Regions from separate parts of the Homo sapiens genome. Here region 1 is linked to region 2. The links come from fine-mapping of genetic effects on gene expression. A gene starts in region 2. The other region holds a variant in brackets. All regions are shown on one strand. Distances are from middle to middle.

Evidence for each region. PIP is the estimated chance that this variant, and not a neighbour inherited with it, causes the effect. A credible set is the group of variants that fine-mapping cannot tell apart.
Region 1: its variant is the best candidate, but not a certain one, in a credible set for the expression of POSTN in aorta (GTEx, PIP 0.55).

The regions. Positions count from the first base shown.
Region 1 is chr13:37,496,431-37,499,363 of GRCh38, forward strand. No RefSeq gene overlaps it. Among named protein-coding and RNA genes, the nearest start is that of LINC01048, 13 kb to the left of the region's middle. The variant C/A (reference allele first, on the strand shown) is at 1,289.
Region 2 is chr13:37,596,943-37,599,875 of GRCh38, forward strand. It overlaps POSTN (periostin), which reads right to left and starts at 1,826. Exons shown (of 23, transcript NM_006475.3): 1 at 1,666-1,826; 2 at 242-340. The coding sequence starts at 1,784.

The DNA.
Region 1 (2,933 bases), 100 kb before region 2:
GGTTTGCCTAAGGCTCTGTACAACCTGTCTGTCAATCATAGGCTCTTCCAAAACCATTGGGTCTTCTGGTTGTAACTCTCTCCGATATATATCATACACATACGATACTCATATATCCCTACCCACCCTCACAGACCCCACTGAAGTCTGGAAGCCTCATGGGGTACCGAGAAAATGGATTGGAACCGCACACTCTAAAATGAATGTCTTGCCTCCCATATCATAAGAGGTCTACCAAGCATTGTACCATTTTCTTCAGGATGCGTGACTCAAGGTGTGGCAACTTATCTTTCATGTTGGAGTAGATAGTCCAACCTCCTTTCAGACTGCTAGACTCCCAGAAACCTCAGATGTAGCAGCCCTCGAACTTTCACAGAGTTTATCTCCCTCTCTAGCCTGTGTGATTGTACTCAATAAAGTACCTAAGATTCCTGTTATTTCTTGCACACTAGGATCAATTAGTAAAATGTCTTTGATGTAATGGTCATTTAATGCTCTGTGCGGTATTGTGATGACCAAAGTTCTTCTAGACTATATTGTAATAGAAAGCAGGAGCATCCATATAACCCTAAGGAAAGGCATTAGAGGTTTATTGCCTTTGCCACAGTACAGCATTTTTATTCTGATTATTTCATATGGGCATTCTGTTAGTTACTAAGTGTGATTATTCCAATAAACACAAAGTGGACAATCAGATGTTGGACCCTGGGACTGGGGAAATAACCACACTGGAGCTGCTATGAGATGGATTCAGGATAAGGCTGTAATCTTCTTAAGTCCATTTGTAACTAGAGAGACCACAGTGGTATTCCAGGTCTCTGCATCAGTTCGAGGGTGGGGATGTTATGAAGATAGAATTTTTACCATGTGATTCAAATTATACAATTGTTATATTTCTAGACATCAAATTAGATAGTTACCTTTTTCTATAAAATTCATCATTTCATCTAAGACTTCAAATGTATTGGTAAACTATTGTTCATAGCTATTGCTTGTGGTTTTATCTACGTATCTTTGAGCATGCCGTTTTCATTATCTTTATTATTAATTATTACTTTGGTCTTTAAGTTTTGACAAGTCATTTAAGAAATTTATCCATTTTTAATTGGTATTAAAAATAGACTTCTATTTATTTTTATTTTGTTTTATATTTTATTAACCTCTGCTATTATTGTAATTATCTTCTTATAGGTTATTCAGTATTAAAAATCTTACAGTGGAGTTCAAGACCAGCCTGGCCAACACGGTGAAACCCCGTCTCTACTAAAAAAAAATAAAAAAATACAAA[C/A]ATTGGCTGGGCACAGTGGTGCACACCTGTAATCCCAGCTACTTGGAGGCTGAGGCAGGAGAATCACTTGAACTCAGGAGGTGGAGGTTGCGGTGAGCCAAGATTGCACCACTGCACTCCAGCTTGGGGGCAACAGAGTAAGACTATGTCCGGGAAAAAAAAAGAAAACAACCATAGAGTGGAAGATCAGCTCTTATTTTTCTGCCTTTTTTTCTTTAGTAACGTAATATTTTTTTTCAGGTTTATTGAGGTATAATTGGCAAATAAAAATTGTATATATTTAAAGTGTACATGATGTTTTGAAATATGTATATATGGTGAAATAATTACTACAATCACACTAGTTAACATATCCATCACTTCACATAGTTGCTGTGCATGTGTGTGACGAGAATATTTACAAGCTACTCTTCTAGAAAATTTCAAGAATGAAATACATTATTAATAATTATAGTCACCCTGTTGTGCATAAGATCTCCAGAATTTATTAGTACATAAGAGTTTAAGATTATAATTTGCACTTTAATTATATCTCTATTTACATGCCAAGTATTGATAATTAGTATTATTCTTTTTCTTTTTTAACGGAGTCTCACTCTGTCGCCTGCCCAGGCTGGAGTGCAGTGGCACAATCTCGGCTCACTGCAAGCTCCGCCTCCCGGGTTCACGCCATTCTCCTGCCTCAGCCTCCCGAGTAGCTGGGACTACAGGTGCCCGCCACCATGCCAGGCTAATTTTTTGTATCTTTTTTAGTAGAGACGGGGTTTCACCATGTTTGCCAGGATGGTCTCGATCTCCTGACCTCATGATCCGCCCACCTCGGCCTCCCAAAGTGCTGGGATTACAGGCATGAGCCACTGCGCCCGGCCCCAGTATTATTCTTATTATTGACATATTTTCTAATTTTCACTATGGTTTCTTTTTTAATGCATATGTTATTTAGAAGTACAATTGCTTTAAATTTCCAAATTTATGGTTTTATTTTTATATTCAAGCATAATTGGTTTACTTGCTTTTATTTAAACTTTGAATTTTGAGATAATTGTTGATTCTCATGCAGTTGTAAGAAAAATACAGACAGATCTCAGTTTCCCTCAATGTTAGCATATATACAGAGTACAACTTCACAACCATCATACTGACATAGATTTATCAAGTTACAGAATAATTTTCTCACCACAAGGGTTCCTCATGTTGTCCTCTTATAACCACATCCACTTTTCTCCTTTCCCTCTATCACTGTCTACCCCATCTTTAAACCTTGACAACTACTAATTTGTTCTTCACTTCTATAATATTGCCAATGATAACCATGGCAAATTGTAACCATTTGTGATTTTCTATTTCACCCAGCATATTCCCTGGAGATCCATTCAAAGTGTTGCACGTATCAACAGTTTCTTTTTATTGCTGTGTAGTGTTCTATGGCACGGATGTCCTAAAATTGTTTAAACATTCTCTGTTGAAGGATTAGATTATTTATAGTTTTTCACTATTGTCAGCAAAGTTGCAATGAACATTTATGAACAGGTTTTTGTGTGAATATAAATTTTCATTTCTTTGGGATAAATAATCAGAATGGCAATTTTCTGAACATATGATAGTTGCATACTAAGTTTTTAAAGCAACCACCAAATGAGTTTCC
Region 2 (2,933 bases):
TCTGCTTCCTTCTGGCCTCCATGTCACATGGATTCAGGAAGAAATCTGAGTTCTAATAGTAATATTGGAGATGCAGGGAGAACTTCTTTATTCACGTATGTATTCCTTTCTTTTCTTTAAATAACTCTCACAATTTTGGTCAGTATTTTCAAGAAGAATGGTGTGTACACCCAGGGGAAGGCATATACATCATGATGTTGTTTTTGGAACTGACATATTATGAAAAAAAAAAGAGACTTACGTTTTCTGTCCACAGATGGACTTTTTATACCAGTTCTTACAAGTGCTGAAGTATTTCTTTTTGGTGCCCAAAATCTGTTGAAGGGCACAGACATTTGGGCTGGAGGATAGAGGGAAAGGAAAAAAGTTAATGTCCTAATAATGACTAGTTTTTCGTATCTAAAGATTGGTTGATAGAAGAAAATGTTGAGATGTGGATTTGATATCCAAAGACATGATTCTAGCCTTGCACAAATCTAATTATTGACACAATCCTACTGAATTGTTGAAAAACCGAAAGTCTACAGGAGGTGGCAGGGAGAGAGAGAAAAATTATACATTTCTGAGAGTAAAATACAAGCTTTTCAAAAAGTTAACCAACTAGGACTATTCAAACAGTATGAACGTAATTTTATTTCTATGTGCCTTATTACTTTTAATGGTAGATAATCTACTGACCCTTTTTAAACCAAGCATGTGCTCATTTGGAGGATGGCCATAACTTCAGGGCTCTCTGGAACAATGAGAGGTCAGAGAGCAAAAGAGACAAGGTTTATTATGTACACAGACACTATACTCTGTAATTTTCTAGGTAAGTAATCACAGAAGTAAATGTGCTAAAATTAACTTTGAAACAATATGGTTGCACAAAGGAGAATTTATCTTTTTGAATGGAAGTAACAGATCAGAACATCCTCTGTCACAATTTTAAGGTTCCCCTTCCCCTCTTAAAGGGACAGAAGTCTTTTTTCACTGTAAGTCAAAGAAGCTTGTGAACATTATGAAAATTCCTGTGAGGCATAGGAAGAAGTGCCAAGATCCGCTTAAAAAATTATAAATGGTTGGATAAGTTACAAAATTATGTGTAATTTTAAAAATGCTTAGTTGTAGTTGCATTAGTTCTATAAAATATAAATTACCTTTGCAAATTTTACAGAATTCAGAGTTTAAAAGTAACTTAAATGCTTCAAAGAATTCAGAGAACTAGTTACATTACCCAGTATTTAACCTTCATATGTAATTTAAATAAAATTTTCTCTAACATCATGTGAGATATTTCAATGCTGTTTGCATACATATGATAGTTCCTAACAATAGATTTTTTAATTTTGAAAACTCAATTTCAGATTTTTGGAAGAAAATAAAAACATAAATAAATGGAATTATAAAAGAATGCCCAGCTAAATTGTGTTAATTAGATTAGAATTATATAACATTTCATAAGAAAGCAATTATATTCAAGGTATTTAGAGAGCAATTAAGTCTTAAAGCTTAAAAGTGCATAGATAAATCACAGAATACTCACATTTTCCTTTTTTTCCTATTACTTTATAATAATTAGGAAAAAAAACCCTGAGGCATATATGAGAAACTTTATGCATACTTGAACATCTAACAAGCTGAGGAAAAAGAAAAATGGTTTATAAAACCAAACCACTCACTTACCCTTGGTCCCGACCCCTGATACGACTATGAGCCAAGATCTTGTCATAATGATTGTTGGCGTTTATAGGGTTAACAATAAGCAGCAATAGTAGAGAAAACATGGGTAAAAAGGGAATCATCTTGAGTCTCTCCGTTGCAGTTAGTCCCCGAAGAGAACTGGCAGTGGGCTTTGGAGAGCTCAGAATTTATATACATGTCAGAGTTGTGGGAGGGAACACTGCATCAACCTGAGAGTCTGAACTCTTTCCAGGAAGCATCGGCAACTTCAAATTGCCAGCTAAGATTTGTTTTGGTTAGTTATATTTAAGGAACACATTGAGCTACTTTTCCTTTTCATTATAAAGAAGGTACTTATTTTTAATCATATGAACAATTGACTCACTGCATGTTTAAGTCTCAGTTTTATTCCTTTGTATCTTAGAGGGTTTTTAAGAAAAATTCTTTTGTTGAGTTTTAAGAGATATTCTGCAATCCTTTCCAGAGTAGAATGTATAATGTCTGTGTGCTCAAGATTATTGTTAGGTGTTATTGCAGTTCACATCAGAACTGAAAGATTATTATTATTATTATTTTTACCAGAAAACAAAGGTAGATGCGAGTCTGACAATCACAAGGGGGTAAAGGCTGTTGATTAAAAACAAACTCTGGATAGATTTAAAACTTGTGTAAGATATGAAATAAGAATTCTAACTTGCTGAAGAACCATGTAGGAGAGTCCATATTTTCCTTGCTATCGTACAAAAAGGAGAGCTACCTCTCATTTCCTTTCTTTTTCAAATATCAAGGAACATATAGAGTTAACATAAATCTACTCTGACAAATTTCTCTAAGGTTTGAAATGAAGCAGAAAGGAAAAACATTTGTGCTTTATTGTTTTTCATGACACACTTTATGTGATGTTGAACATGTCTATGCAGCACATCTACTGATAACCACTGGTGAAAAGCAGCCAATATTGGAAGCAAGTGTTACGAATCTAGAGATAACTAGAACAATTAAATACATATTAGGAAACATGGACATTGCCAAAATGATTCTTCTGATTTTATCAAGAATAACTAAAGCCTTTCAATGTTACACTATGCAATCCCTAGCCAAAGGAATGTGCGTTCTTACTACTCCATGCATATGTCAAATGTTCAGAAAACTTTGGATAAAAGAAATCTGAATATCAGAGGGAAACAATGAGCTGAAATGGTAACCACAATCAGCTTCCTTGAATAAACAAGCTGCACACCATCCTAAAGTGTAATTCCAATCCATTTTGC